Homo sapiens: one gene and its partner. The protein of the gene in region 1 binds, or shares a complex with, the protein of each later gene. Each region holds a gene or a part of one and is shown in the gene's direction. Other genes may lie near its edges.

Evidence for each region.
Region 2: the proteins of PI4KB (region 1) and ACBD3 are in contact, whole or in part, in an NMR structure (PDB 2N73), measured with the Homo sapiens proteins. Residues at the interface, in NP_001317650.1 of Homo sapiens: Val37, Gly38, Val42, Ile43, Asp44, Pro45, Val47, Ala48, Gln49, Lys50, Ala51, Cys52, Glu54, Val55, Leu56, Val59, Lys60, His63; in NP_073572.2 of Homo sapiens: Gln245, Ile246, Ala249, Leu250, Gln253, Thr254, Gln257, Phe258, Tyr261, Gln265, Tyr266, Leu276, Leu280, Gln283, His284, Gln287, Tyr288, Gln291, Leu292, Val295.

The regions. Positions count from the first base shown.
Region 1 is NC_000001.11:151,324,340-151,331,818, reverse strand, and holds the start of PI4KB (phosphatidylinositol 4-kinase beta), read left to right. Parts: upstream 1-4,402; 5' UTR 4,403-4,548; intron 4,549-5,445; exon of another isoform or gene 5,446-5,639; coding exon of another isoform or gene 5,640-5,647; intron 5,648-6,901; exon of another isoform or gene 6,902-7,074; intron 7,075-7,479. UniProt on the Homo sapiens protein: Phosphorylates phosphatidylinositol (PI) in the first committed step in the production of the second messenger inositol-1,4,5,-trisphosphate (PIP). May regulate Golgi disintegration/reorganization during mitosis, possibly via its phosphorylation.
Region 2 is NC_000001.11:226,183,611-226,190,956, reverse strand, and holds the start of ACBD3 (Golgi resident protein GCP60), read left to right. Parts: upstream 1-4,215; 5' UTR 4,216-4,281; coding exon 4,282-4,567; intron 4,568-7,346. UniProt on the Homo sapiens protein: Involved in the maintenance of Golgi structure by interacting with giantin, affecting protein transport between the endoplasmic reticulum and Golgi. Involved in hormone-induced steroid biosynthesis in testicular Leydig cells.

The DNA.
Region 1 (7,479 bases):
GGTGTGGTGGCTCATGCCTGTAATCCCAGCACTTTGGGAGGACGAGACGGGTGGATCACTTGAGGTCAGGAGTTTGAGACCAGCCTGGCCAACATGGTGAAACACTGTCTCTACGAAAATAACAAAAATTAGCTGGGTGTGGTGGTGGGTGCCTGTAATCCCAGCTACTTAGGAAGCTAAGGCAGGAGAATGGCTCCAACCCGGGAGGCGGAGGTTGCAGTGAGCTGAGATGGCACCACTGCACTCCAGCCTGGACAACAGAGTGAGACTCTGTCTCAATTAAAAAAAAAAAAAAGAAAAAGAAAAAAATATATATATAAAATATATATATATATATATATGAACTAAATCATTTTTGAAAAATAACTATATTTTCCGAAACAAGAAAAAAAATCAATGAGACAATTGGCATTGTTTTTAAAGGGGGAAATTTCTTTAATGTCAGACTGGGTTCTCATATCTGCTTCTGCATTCAATCTTTGTGTGTGTGTGTGTGTATGTGTGTGTGTGTGTGTGTCTCACTCTGTCACCCAGGCTGGAGTGCAGTGGCATGATTGCAGCTCACTGCAACCTCTACCTCCCAGGTTCAAGCAATTCTCCTGCCTAAGCCTTCCCACAGGTGCATACTACCACGTCTCGCTAATTTTTGTGATTTTGGTAGAGACACAGTGGCTCACACCTATAATCCCAGCGTTTTGGGAGGCCAAGGTGGGCAGATCACCTGAGGTTGGGAGTTCGAGACCAGCCTGGGCAACATGGTGAAACCCCATCTCTACTAAAAATACAAAAATTAGCTGGGCGTGGTGGCGTGCACCTGTAATCCCAGCTACTTGGGAGGCTGAAGCACGACAATCGCTTGAATTCGGGAGGCAGAGTTTGCAGTGAGCTGAGATCACGCCACTGCACTCCAGCCTGGGCAAAAAAGCAAGACCCTGTCTCAAAAAAAACAAAAACAAAAAACAGAAGATGATAAAAAAAAAAAAAAGAAACCCTCCCGAAAACGGCAGAAAGACAGTCATAAAGGGATGCAAAGAAATTTATACATATGGGCCAGGCACAGTGGCTCACGCCTGTAATCCCAGCACTTTAGGAGGCCGAGGCGGGCGGATCACGAGTTCAAGAGATCAAGACCATCCTGGCCAACATGGTGAAACCCCGTCTCTACTAAAAATACAAAAATTAGCTGGGCATGGTGACGCATGCCTGTAATCCCAGCTACTCGGGAGGCTGAGGCAGAAGAATCGCTTGAATCCAGGAGGTGGAGGAGGGTCCCTTGAGCCAAGATTGCACCATTGCACTCCAGCCTGGGCGACAGAGGGAGACTCTGTCTCAAAAAGAAAAAAAAAAGAAAGAAAGAAATTTATACATATGAACCCTTAGAGCTATAAATAGGAAACTTAAAATCTTCTACTTATGTTTGTGTGTGTGTGTATTTTTAGTAGGGTGGTCTATAACTGACTAGCTATAAAAAGTTCCTGCTTCAAATTTGAAGAGATGTTTCTGAAATTTTTTCTGTCATTGGAAAATAAGAAAACTTCCTACTATAAAAAAGGTTGTCACATGTCTTTCTACAATGTTTCAAAAGGCTAGTCTTGTGGCTGTTTGGAAGGTTATCCCTTGAGGGGATACATGACATTTTAAACTCTAGGCTAAAGCAGGGTCATCGCCTCATGATATTTGCGGGACAGCTGATTGGAAGCTGGCCAAGAGCTGGTGGGCCTAACATGTGGACTGGTGATTCTCCCCAATCCAGACCAGTGGTGAGAATTTTTTTTTTTTTTTTGAGATGGAGTCTCGCTCTGTTGCCCAGGCTGGAGTGCAATGGCGCAATCTCGGCTCACTGCAACCTCTGCCTCTCAGGTTCAAGTGATTCCCTGCCTCACCCTCCCTAGTAGCTGGGATTATAGGCACCCACCACCATGCCCAGCTAATTTTTGTATTTTTAGTAGAGACAGGGTTTCACCAAGTCGGTCAGGCTGGTCTCAAACTCCTGACCTCGACTGATCCACCCACCTCGGACTCCCAAAGTGCTGGGATTACAGGCGTGAGCCACCACGCCAAGCCGATTTTTTTTTTTGAGACAGGGTCTCACTCCGTTGTCCAGGCTGGAGTGCAGTGGCATGATCTTGGCTCACTGCAGCCTCTGTCTCCCAGGCTCAAGTGATCCTCCTACCTCAGCCTCCTAAGTAGCTGGGACTACAGGTGCATGCCACCATGCCAGCTAGGCTAATTTTTGTATTTTTGAAGAGACGTGGTTTCACCATGTTGCCCAGGCTGGTCTCAAACCCCTGAGCTCAAGCAATCTGCCCACCTCAGCCTCCCAAAGTGCTGGGATTACAGGTGTGAGCCACTGTGCCCAGCTGACAAATTTAAACTATCTTTGGCACTCTTGTCCCCATTCTTTGTTCATCTTTCATACTGTACTCCTGCTTTAACCTAGCTTGTCTGCTTGCCCTCTCCTCATGATATGAGCAAATTCCCATTTATATTCTTCAACATACAATTTTTTTGCTTTCAGAATGCTCGCTTGTCTTTTATTTTGCTGGGTTATATCCAATATCTATTCTAAGACCTGACTCACAATATTTCTAAGAAGCCTTCCATTCATTCATTCACCATATACTGGTGTGTGTGTGTGTGTGTGTGTGTGTGTGTGTGTGTGTATGTGTGTGTGTCCATACACATATAGGCCTTCCAAATTAACTTAAACTCCACTATGTCCCTTCAGCAATTAGGTTAGGTACCCCATTTGTTCTACTGTTGTATATACTGCATGTTTTACACAGGCATTTTCAAGCTATTACACTTTATTCTGCCTTCCAATTAAACATTGTAGCAGTGACTCTTTCATCATCTATCCTGTATGATTGTCCCAATAATTAATAATAAAGTACTATAGTAGCAACTTGTACTCTCTTGATCCTAACAAAACCCTGTAATGGGCTAATATTACTTCATCCATATGTCTTCTTTGTAGACATAGAAACTGAGGTTTAAAGAGGTTACATTAGTTATTCCAAATCAAACGGCTTGTAAGTGGCAGGGAAGATGGCATTCAAGACCCGGGCTCAAATAACTAGCCTCAATGTATTAAGTAAGGCACTAATGAGGGGCATTGCATATTAAGTAAAGCCCTAGGAAAGGCATTGAGATAGAGGTTCTGAGGACAAAGAGGGCTCTAAATCAACAATCTTAACCGAAAAATACACAAAAAACTTGCTGGGCGAGGTCGGGCCTATAATCCCAGCACTTTGGTACCTGAGGCCGGCAGATTGCTTGAGGCTAACAGTTCGAGACAAGCTTGGGCAACATAGCAAGACCCTGTCTTTACAAAACAAACAAACAAACGAAAAATACACAAAAGCAACACCAGAGGCCCATTTGCATGGCGTGTTTTTGTTTATTTGTTTGGCCTAATATGGTTTCGTTTTGTTTGGAAGAAGGGATTGTGCCCTCCAAGCCTTTGTCGTTTCACTCACCTCTCCCAACCTGGCCCTGTCCAGCCCCTCCCTGGAGGGCTGGGCATATGGATGCTGGAGGTCACAGGCTGCCCAGGCAGGTTGGTGACCTCGGAGGCAGAACCACGGCCTCGAGTCGGGCCTCTAACGGCGAAAAGACTGACGCGGTTGGACCGCGCCATTCCCGAAATGTTAAGGAGCTTAAACTCCGCATCGTCCTCCAAGATAAGTAGGAAAAGGGCAGTCAGAAAGAACGTCTTCCCCGTCCGCCGTCTTCCTGCGCGCCCTTCTAGGAACCCAGCGTCCATCCCACGGCCTGATTTACTAAGGGAGTCTTGTAGCATACGGGAGGGGGAAAAGTCATTGATTGCAATTACGGTAATTTGGTTAGTTACTCAAACGGTCGTTTACATATAACTTGCATGTTAATATACTTCTGGAAGTATGCATATGTCCATACTTCTTTAACAGGGCACCCACGGCCGCCTGCTCACCCTACTTATGCAGCAAATTTTACTTCTCTCTCGGCTTCTTTAGCCTCGCAAACGCTATCGCTTAGGTCCGCTTCTTAAATATTGGCCCCTCCTCCCACCCGTAAGCTCCTCCCTTCGCCCTCTCTCCCTCGAGAGCTTCCAAACATCTTTTCCCCGCCCCCTTTTCTATTTCTGAACAGGCATGTTCCAGGCAGCTCACCCGACTCCTTAGATTACTATGGAATCGGTAGGGTCCTGACCGCTGGGGAAGCAGGAAAGCGTATCCTGGGAAGAAAGGCTTGGCTTGGACTCCGGAGAAGAATACTACATCGAGACCTGCTGGGGAATTTTATTTTATTTTATTATTTTTTTGGTCTTGGTTGTACTGAGGGAGGAAGAAGAGGTTGTGTGGCCCGGTCGAACTTGTGGCAGCCTGAAGGCCCCCTCAGGCGGCGCCGCGGGCAGCCCCGCAGCCGGGGCCTGGTGCAGCCTCCGCGGCCGCTGTCAGGGAAGCGCAGGCGGCCAATGGAACCCGGGAGCGGTCGCTGCTGCTGAGGCGGCAGTGTCGGCAGTCCAACCGCGACTGCCCGCACCCCCTCCGCGGGGGTCCCCCAGAGGTAAGCTACTCCTCCTTCATGAGTCACCTTTGCCCTGTTGGGTGGGGGGGGGGGTCCCTCTCCCACCCTGTCCCGCACAGTCTTCCCCACCTGAGTTCGACTACGAAACTGCCCTCTTGGTGTCAGCTGCACCCCGGGTTCCTTCTCCACCCTTTCCTCTCAGGCCTGGGGTCCTCCTCCGCTTTTTGGCTTCCTCTTCTATTAGCTCCTCCCTCTGCCTCGGGGATTCCCCCCTCCCTCACTCATCCCTGTTGCCTACGTCTCGAATAATTCTTTTTTTTAAGTCATGAACCCTTTCCATATCAGACGACTCCCATAATGCCCATCCTTGTCCTTCCTCGTCGTCTCTGCCCCTGCCCCAAACCTTTTCCATGGACTCCACCTTTATCTCTTTTCCTAGTTTGCACTTTTCCTCCTATGTCCCTGTGCAACTCCAGCACTGGGTTCCCATTTCCCTGAGCTAAAGATTGCATCCCTGTCTTCCTGTGCTGCTTCTGATTCCATTACCTCACTGTCACCCACCTACCCAGCCAGCTCCTGGCTTCCAAGAATTGCCTGTTCCCTTCTCCTTAAGGGATCTCGGGCCCTTGTCATCAATCCAAAAGTACCATTTACATTCTTACTTTGAACCTAGTCCTCACTCTTCTCTGGGATGCATTATGATCCCTATAACTTTCTTTAGCTTCTCTTTCTCCCTCCTCAATCCCCCAACTTTCTAGAGGTTTCTGTCTGTAGGGGAGAGATTTGACAGTGCCCTTCCCATTCAGGATTTCCAACTTTGACACCTCCCTCGAGTTTCAGGGATTTCTCTGATCCTTGTGACATTTGTTCTGTTTTTCCCGTGGGCTTCATGTGTTCTCTGTTACACTCTTTATCTCCACATACCACTTATTTCAGGATCAACTAAACCTTGAACTAAGAAGAAAAATGTGTTGTGAGCAGGGGGAGCCTCAGCTGCCTCAGGCCGTTCAGGACAGAAGGGTGTTTCTGAAGGCCGGAGCAAGTTTTGAAGAAGTCCCTATCAGATTACACTTGGTTGACTACTCCGGAGCAGCCACTAAGAGGGATGAACAGGCCTGCGTGGAAATTGAATGAGATTGTGAGAAAACTTGTTTCAGATTATTTAATTTTAGGCTTTTGTTAAAGGAATCACAGAATAGAGTGCCTTCTCACCCCTGTCCAGATCCATGAGGAATCAGTTTATTCTTGTGGTTTACTAGAATAGTTTTGGTTGGTTCCATAAGAATTCAGGCCTGGAGTGGGGTAAGGGTATAACTGGAAAAAGGAACATGAGACAATGGAAAGAGCTTGTACATTCAGAATCGGGACTCCTGGGTTCAGCATGTGACTTCCTCACTTGACCTCTAGAGTGATCCTTTTGGAAAATGCCCACTCTCTGTAGGCATCAGTGCAGTAATAAGTTGGTAGCAGGATGTGGGTTGGGGGAAAAAATCAGATTTGGTTTATTTGTTTACAAAACATTTTGGGTTCCTCAGGCAAAAGGTATTTATTAGTAGTGGTTTAGTCATCCTGAGAATTTTCCTTCACCTTGGTCTTTCTGTCAGATGTTTCTAGTCCACAACCAGGGGTGTAAGTCATTTTGAAAGACAAGCTCCAGGCCTGCTTCCTTCATCTGCTTTGCTTTTTCCCCCAGTGCATTAAGTGGCTGATTTTCTGTCCTGTTCCTCACGTACTTGATCCATAACTCCAGATTCTATAGGTAGAAAGTATGTTTGTGGGAAAGCACTTTGAGGAAGCTGGCTGGAAAAGAGAACTTGGAGTGAACTGAGACTTAGGCAACTAGTTGCTGCCATGTCTCTCTCAGCCTGTGATAGCGAAAGGGCACGTGAGATTCCATTCATTTTCTGATTCTAGGTCTGTTTGGGAGTAGTTATGTCATCTTATCCCACTTCCTTTCTCTTCCTTGTCGTTAGTCATGGTGCAGTCTCCTCATAATTCCCCTTATTAGAAGCTTTCCTGCCAGGCGCGGTGGCTCACACCTGTAATCCCAGCATTTTGGGAGGCCGAGGCAGGCAGATCACCCGAGGTCAGGAGTTCAAGACCAGTCCGGCCAACATGGTGAAACCCCATCTCTACTAAAAATACAAAAAATTAGCCGGGCATGGTGGCGAGCTTCTGTAATCCCAGCTACTCCGGAGGCTGAAGCAGGAGAATTACTTGAACCCAGGAGGCGAAGGTTGCAGTGAGCCGAGATCACGCCACTGCACTCCAGCCTGGGTGACTGAGTGAAACTCTGTCTCAGGAAAAAAAAAAAAAAAAAAGCAGCTTTCCTCCTTGGAAGCATCCCCAACCAGAAATCATATTTCCTCTCATTTCCCTGCTTTCTTCTTAGAGTTGAGTCCACGCTCCATGAGAATGCTGAACACCATCCAAAGCAGCAAATTGAGATTCCTTGATTTGGGGAAGAGGTTTGGGAGGAACCCTTCAATAATTGGCATGGGACAAGAGGGGACCCAGTCCAAGTGTATTTGGGACTCGCAGTAGGGAGGAACAATTCAGAGAGAGGTGAGTGCACAGGCTGCTTTCTTTGCCATCTGTTTCAGTAGCGGCTCCCATAGCTGGCTTGGGCTGTCTGGCTGGAATCTGCTTATACCAGCTCCATGGCTCTGCACAGAGTTCTCAGCCTGAATCAATATTGACTTAACTACCATGAGACCACTGCCCTCCCTACCCTCGTGCTAGTAGCTTGAGAATGCCCTCTCCCCTAATGCCCACACTCTCTGGGCCCTTGTGTCAGCAGTTACCTGGATCCTGGTAGGGCTGGAGCTGGCTTGACTGCCTGGCCCTGAGTTTCTATAAGGAAAAAGGAGTACTCAATCTCTACCTTTACCATTGAGGTCAAAGGGGAGAGATGAGTTGAGACATCCTTAAAGAAAGGTTTGAGTTAGACATTAAGACATGAGGAGGAAC
Region 2 (7,346 bases), about 75 Mb from region 1:
CAGCATCGGCATCACCAGAAAGCTTATGAGAAATGTATACTCTCAGGCCTCCCTCTATACCTACTGAGTCAGAATCTGCAGTTTAATAAGACATTCAGGTGAGCGTGTCTGGAACTCATCTCCCACAGTGAACTGTTAAAGCGAAGTTATATTCTCTAATTTTTTAATTTTATTTTTTAGAAACAGGGTCTCCTTCTGTCGCCCAGGCTGGAATGCAGTGACGCCATCATGGTTTACTGGAGCCTTGACCTCCCAGGCTCAAGTGATCCTTCCACCTCAGCCTCCCAAGTAGCTGGACCCTAGGCACATGCCACCATGCCCAGCTAATTTTTTATTTTTTGTAGAGACAGGGTCTTCCTATGCTGCCCAGGCTGTTCTCAAACTCCTGGGCTCGAACAATCCTCCTGCCTCAGCCTCCCAAAGTGCTGGGATTACAGGCATGACGCACTGTGCCAACCCCTAATGTTTTTAGTCATTAAGGGCAACCACCTACACAATGGCCCTTGATGTTTCGATTAGCAAGAGGTTCAGATGCTTGGTCTAGAGGATGTTTGGGTTTTCCAACCATATTCAATATGTTAAATTACAAAACAATAAAAAAGTCCATATAATTTTTTTTAATGTATGTCTTTTTTTGAGACAGTCTCTCTCCATCACCTAGGCTGGAGCGCAGTGGTGTGATCTTGGCTCACTGCAACATCCACCTCTCAGGTTCAAGCAATTCTCCTGCCTCAGCCTCCTGAGCAGCTGGGATTACAAGTGCCTACCACCACGCCCAGCTAATTTTTGTATAAAAAGTCCATGTAATTAATTAATTACCATATTTTACCTACCTTCCTAGGTATATTCTATAGGTTTTAATAATTATTGTATACTTTTTAAAAAAATAACTTTTTTTCTGATTACAAAAGAAATGCTTATCGTGAAAACTTGGAAAACAGAATCTAGCATTTCATGAAGAAGGGTTATATTTACCCTACTCATTATCATCCCAACAGTTATTGAATGTTAAAGGTAGAACACTGAGCAAAACACAGGGGAATATATATGTATATATAACATTTTGAAGGTTAGGCACATAATATGCATATTTTTAAGCTAATGAAGCTAAATATAAAGATCCAAGCTAAGTGGGAAGAACACAGACCTTAGAGCAGTAGAATTAGAGTTTTTAGTCCTCTACAACTAGAAGTGGGTTTACCATAAAGTTAATGAAGCTCAAGCTTCAGGGCCCCTTGCTTACACAGGCCCCTCCCAAGGCCCTTAGAGCGGCCTTAGCAGTATACACTTCTGTAACAGTTTTGAGAGTAAGATATTTAAGACCTCTGTCTTCGTTTCTAACTTCCCTTCGTCATCCTCCTCTGGTTAGGAGGTATTGAAATGGCTATAGGCTTTGTGGGGGATTTGGCTAAGGGGACAATGAATAGGGATACATTTAATTTGGGGTCAGTGGCATGCATTTAAGTGGTTTGCAGTCACTTCTGCATGTTTTTAAATTATTGCTCACCATGGGTGTAGGAATGGCTTTCTGGAATATACCTACTGCCCATTATGTCAATTCAGCCAGCACCATGTCACAAAAGTGCAAGGCCAAAGGGCGAAGGAACCCTATGTTGCCTGACACAGGAAGTACTTGGGTAGTGGAGGAGCAACAAGGTTTGAAAGAAAAGAAAGAGCTAGTAAAATTCTTCCATTCTTTTTCCTCTTCTGGGGATGTTGTCTATAGGCACATAGAATGGTCCAGCGTTTGACATACTGTTGTAGGCTTTCCTACAATACAGCTTCTAATAAAACTAGGCTGTCCTGAACCCCTGGTAATATAATTGCTTACCTTTATACCAAGAAGGCTGGGAAAGCACCAAAATCTACTGTGGTGTGTACCCACGCAGACTTCAAGGGGTTCGTGCTATAAGACCCGAAGTCTTATGAGATTGTCCAAAACACAAAAAACCATGTCAGCAGGGCCTATGGTGGTTCCATGTGTGCTATATGTGTTTGTGACAGGATCAAGCATGTTTTCCTTATCGAGGAAAAGAAAATCATTGTGAGAGTGTTGAAGGCACAAGCACAGGGTCAGAAAGCTAAATAAAAAATGAAGCTTCTTTGAGTAATTAAAATTAAAAGACTTAAAAATATGCTTCCAACCATCAGAAGTGGAAGATTATAAGGAGAGGGATCAATTCTCTCAATGCCTAATCAAAATGAAGGTTCTCACTCACTGAGAATCTAAGTCATATCTGCAATTATAACTGCACCATACTTCATGTTTTTATGTGAAGCATGCAAAAGGGAATAGATTAGAAACCCTATGTTTATGGGACAAAAACTTATAGTTGTACTACAGTGAGTCTGTCTGTATGTGAAGTTATATGTCTTATCCACCGTAATGAATGAGATCCTGTCTGAATGCAGCATACAAATCTTGTCCTGAAAAAAACCCTCGGCCAGGCGCGGTGGCTCACGCCTGTAATCCCAGCACTTTGGGAGGCCGAGGCGGGCATATCACAAGGTCAGGAGATTGAGACCATCCTGGCTAACACGGTGAAACCTCGTCTCTACTAAAAATACAAAAAAATTAGCCGGGCATGGTGGTGGGCACCTATAGTCCCAGCTACTCAGGAGGCTGAGGCAGGAGAATGGCGTGAACCCTGGAGGCGGAGCTTGCAGTGAGCCAAGATCGCGCCACTGCACTCCAGCGTGGGCGACAGAGAGAGACTCCGTCTCAAAAAAAAGAAAAAAACTCTCTAGGGCTTCAGTAAAAACCACACACAAAATTGTCACTGAAGCAGCCAAACGGCCATAAAAATCTCATAGCACATCCATGAAACTTGAGAGAGGTTTCCCAAACTGAACAATAACCCTAAAAAAGTACGTTAACAATATCAGTAATGAGTTGTGATGCTGAAATAAATTTATAAACAATTATTAAGAAACAAATTTAATCAGCCATGCTGGAGAAAAGACTGATCTTTCTCTTTTCTTTATAGAGAATTACAAAATACGCCGGGCGCGGTGGCTCTCACCTGTAATCCCAGCACTTTGGGGAGGCTGAGGCGGGCAGATCACATGAGGTCAGGAGTTTGAGACCAGCCTGGCCAACATGGGGAAACTCTGACTCTACTAAGTTTACAAAAATTAGCCGGGCGTGGTGGTGAGCACCTGTAATCCCAACTACTTGGGAGGCTGAGGCAGGAGAGTTGCTTGAACCCGGGAGGCAGAGGTTGCAGTGAACCGAATTGCACCACTACACTCCAGCCTGGGTGGCACAGCAGGACTGTCTGCAAAAAACAAAAAAAAAAAAAAAAAAAAAAAGTTACAAAATAATTGTTATAGGAAAAGGCAATCAGAAGTACGCAGCCAAAACAAAGGTGGGAAAAATGATCATAAATGGTGCTCCCAAAGTCTGGAAACACAGGTGAATATACATAATGTCGGGGGCGACTTCAATCTTTTAGAAAAAAATAGGTTTCTGGGCTCTCAGACGCCCTGTAGAAGAATATCAGGCAGTCAATGAAAATATTACGGTTATGTGTGTGATGTTTGTGGGTTTTATTAACTTTTAAAATATCATTTGTTTTTTCTTTCTCTTTCTAAATATACATTCACTTTCCTACCCTTCTGCGCGTAACTTTTTGTACTCTTTCCTAATGAGGGTCCCCACAAATTGTATGAGCTGCGCTTCCTGCAAAACCAGGATCAGCCCCGTCTGCAACCTCAAAGTCACTGAATTTCTCTGCAGTCTCAGTTTCCCCTTTTAAAAAAATTGGGAATTTGCCCTGCATTTCCTTAGAGTTGCTGTGAAGGCCAAACGAGATGGTGGTGGGCAAAAGAGCTCTGCCAACCACGCAGGCCCCTGCAAATGTGAAGGGCCTCTGACCTGGAGGGTTGGGTGCTGGCCGACCTCGTCAATCCTCCCTACTCCGACCCCCGCGCGGGGCTCCACTGACCCCGCCCCTGCTGGGCACTGACAGCCGCAGCACCGAACCGAGCGGTGGGGGTGGTAGCACCCGCCCACCTGGAGCAACTGGGATCCGAAAGGATGGGGTGCGGGGGAGGGGAGTTCGGGACCAACGGGAGTTGGGGAGCCTGAAGGGTGGTCGCTGAGCCAGGGCAACTGACGATTCCGGAGGGGGTGGGGCGCCAGGCCTCAGCCCCTCTCCCGGAGCCCTCCAGCCTCCTCAGCAGCGGAAGTTCCGGTGTCGGTAAGCGGAGGTCAGAGGTCAGCAGGAAGTCGATACGTGGCTGCCGTCTGTCCCCGCTGAGGAGGTGCAGCAGCCGGAGATGGCGGCGGTGCTGAACGCAGAGCGACTCGAGGTGTCCGTCGACGGCCTCACGCTCAGCCCGGACCCGGAGGAGCGGCCTGGGGCGGAGGGCGCCCCGCTGCTGCCGCCACCGCTGCCACCGCCCTCGCCACCTGGATCCGGTCGCGGCCCGGGCGCCTCAGGGGAGCAGCCCGAGCCCGGGGAGGCGGCGGCTGGGGGCGCGGCGGAGGAGGCGCGGCGGCTGGAGCAGCGCTGGGGTTTCGGCCTGGAGGAGTTGTACGGCCTGGCACTGCGCTTCTTCAAAGGTGAGCCGGGCCAGCCCCACCCCCGCCGCTTCTGCCCGGCCCCGGGAGCCCGGCGTGGGCTGTGGTCCCCAGGGTGACTGGACCAGACTTGCCCTCACCCACTCATACTGGGCTGTGGTGACTCAAGCGGGGTTCCCTCCTTGGGGGTACCCGAAGTTTGTCACTACCCGCTTGGCCACTAGGTCACACCCCTGACGGGCCTGCAACCTTGGTTTAGCAGTCATGTCCCGCCTCCCAGAGGTTACCGGGACATTTTACCTGATTTAGCTTCTGGGATTTCCAGGAGCCCTGGTGGAAGAATGAGCCCACTTTCTTCCAAAGGATCCCATTCTGGGATTGCCTTTTATTATTATTATTTTTTTAACTGACGCTTTTCTTTTCCTATTTCCCATGGCTTGTCACATCAGAACCCGCCGATTTTTACCCTTAGTGGAAGAAATCTGTCAAGAGGTTCCATACATAGCTTTTCCAGCCATTCTTGGGAACCATAAACTGGAACAGGACTTGATCCCCCGGCAGATTGATGTGGCAGAGAGGAGGAAGTAAAGTGTTAAGCTCATCATCCTCTCCGGCTTGTCAAACTCTTGAGGAGAGATGTCCACTATGTTCTAGTAACTTCTAGGTGGTTAAAATTTTACATTGTAAGCAATGTGCAAGAGTGAATTCTCAGAGTAAGGCCTAACAGTACCTTCTGTGCTTTTCGCATAATTAATTGTTAAATGTCTCTTGTCTTAGAGCAAGATTGTAGTGTGCGGTTTTTTTTTTTTTTAATTGGGTGATTCACTTAGTCGAATGGTGGAGAGACCAATCACATGATTTTTGTCAGTGGGAAAAACTGATGAAAGCCCGTTAGTTTGATTCTTAAAGATACTTAGTCTTGTAGGGCGAATGGACAGGGAGGGACATCAGCAAATGCAACTTTAAAAGTGGTTGCTAGGTTCCACGTACATTCCAGAGCAGCATATTTATGACACTTTCCCCAGAGGGAGTACCTTTTGGAGTACATATTTTACTAGCCAAAGTTGAGTAGTTCAATGTAATGATACACACGGAAGTTGTTTTCTCTCAAAATAACTTTAATTGTGCAAACTAGTGAAAGTTTTATAAATTTTCCAGAACATTTGATCATTTCACATTCAATGACATATTCGTGGTCATTGCACAATGAGTTGAGCCCTCTGTGTACTAACTAGCTTGGGGAATTGGTAATGGCTAATGGGTTTTGGATCATTTGACTTTTAGATCACCGGCTTGAATTTAGAGTTTGCTGTAGTGATGATATATTACCACTTGATAAAAATCAGGTGGTTTCTGTACAATTCATATAGCTACATTCCATCTTAAATTTTTATTCTTGGAACTTATTTTTCAGTAAAGTATATTGTAGCAGAGAGTAAGAGTAGAAATGAACTAATTCCTTTTTTTTTTTTTTTTTGAGCTGGAGTCCTGCTCTGTTGCAGGACTGAGGGAGGCTGAGGCAGGAGAATCACTTGAACCCGGGAGGCGGAGGTTGCAGTGAGCCAAGATGGCACCATTGTACTCCAGCCTGGGCGACGAGCAAAACTCCGTCTAAAAAAAAAAAAAGAATCGCTTCAATATGGGAGGCAGAGGTTGCAGTGAGCCGAGATCATGCCACTGCACTCCATCCTGGGCGACAAAGTGAAATTCTGTCTCAAAACAAAGAAAAAGATTAAAACACTGTAACGTGTAGTATACTTAACATTGTTTGGAGAGTCAGGAAGCTCTGGATTCTAGTTACCTTGTAAACTAGACAATTAACTTTTCCAGAATCAGTTTCATATGTATAAAGGGAGCTGGATTCTATAAAATATGATGTCTCAGATTTAAGATTCAGTGGTCTTAACCTAACAGATTATTTTAACATGTGTCTTGAGTGGTAGGAATCCTGGGGAAACTTATAACTTGGGGCCTAGGTGTTAGTCACCTTAGAGAATAAAGCTACACTGATAGGTGTGGTTCACTCACTTCCTAAATGAAGTTCTCAAAGCAATATCCAGGTACTAAAAAGGAGAAATAGCTGTGTAGCAATTAAAAGCTACCTTTCTGCATGTGTCATTGGAGACTGTTAGTATATGAGACACTAACTGACAAAAGGGAAGGATGTAAAAGCAGTCAGAAGAATTATGGAATGTGGAGTGAGCCAAGTAATGCTGCCTTTGTTTTGTTTTTTGTTTTTGAGATAGAGTCTCACTCTGTCGCCCAGGCTGGAGTGCAGTGGTGCCATCTCGGGGCTCACTGCAAGCTCCACCTCCCGGATTCACTCCATTCTCCTGCCTCAGCCTCCCGAGTAGCTGGGACTACAGGTGCCCACCACCACGCCCGGCTAATTTTTTGTATTTTTCGTAGAGACGAGGTTTCACCGTGTTAGCCAGGATGGTCTCGATTTCCTGACCTCGTGATCCTCCTGCGTCAGCCTCCCAAAGTGCTGGGATTACAGGTGTGAGCCACTGTGCCCAGCCTGGTTTTTTTTTTTTTTTTTTTTTTTAGGCAGAGTTTGATTCTTGTTGCTCAGGCTAGAGTGCAATGGCGCGATCTCAGCTCACTGCAACCTCTGCCTCGAGGGTTCAAGTGATTCTCCTGCCTCTGCCTCCCGAGTAGCTGAGATTACAGGCATGTGCCACCACGCCCAGGTACTTTTGTATTTCTAGTAGAGACGGGGTTTCTCCATGCTGGTCTCGAACTGCCGACCTCAGGTGATCTGCCCACCTTGGCCTCCCAAAGTGTTGGGATTATAGGCGTGAGCCACCGTGCCCGGCAC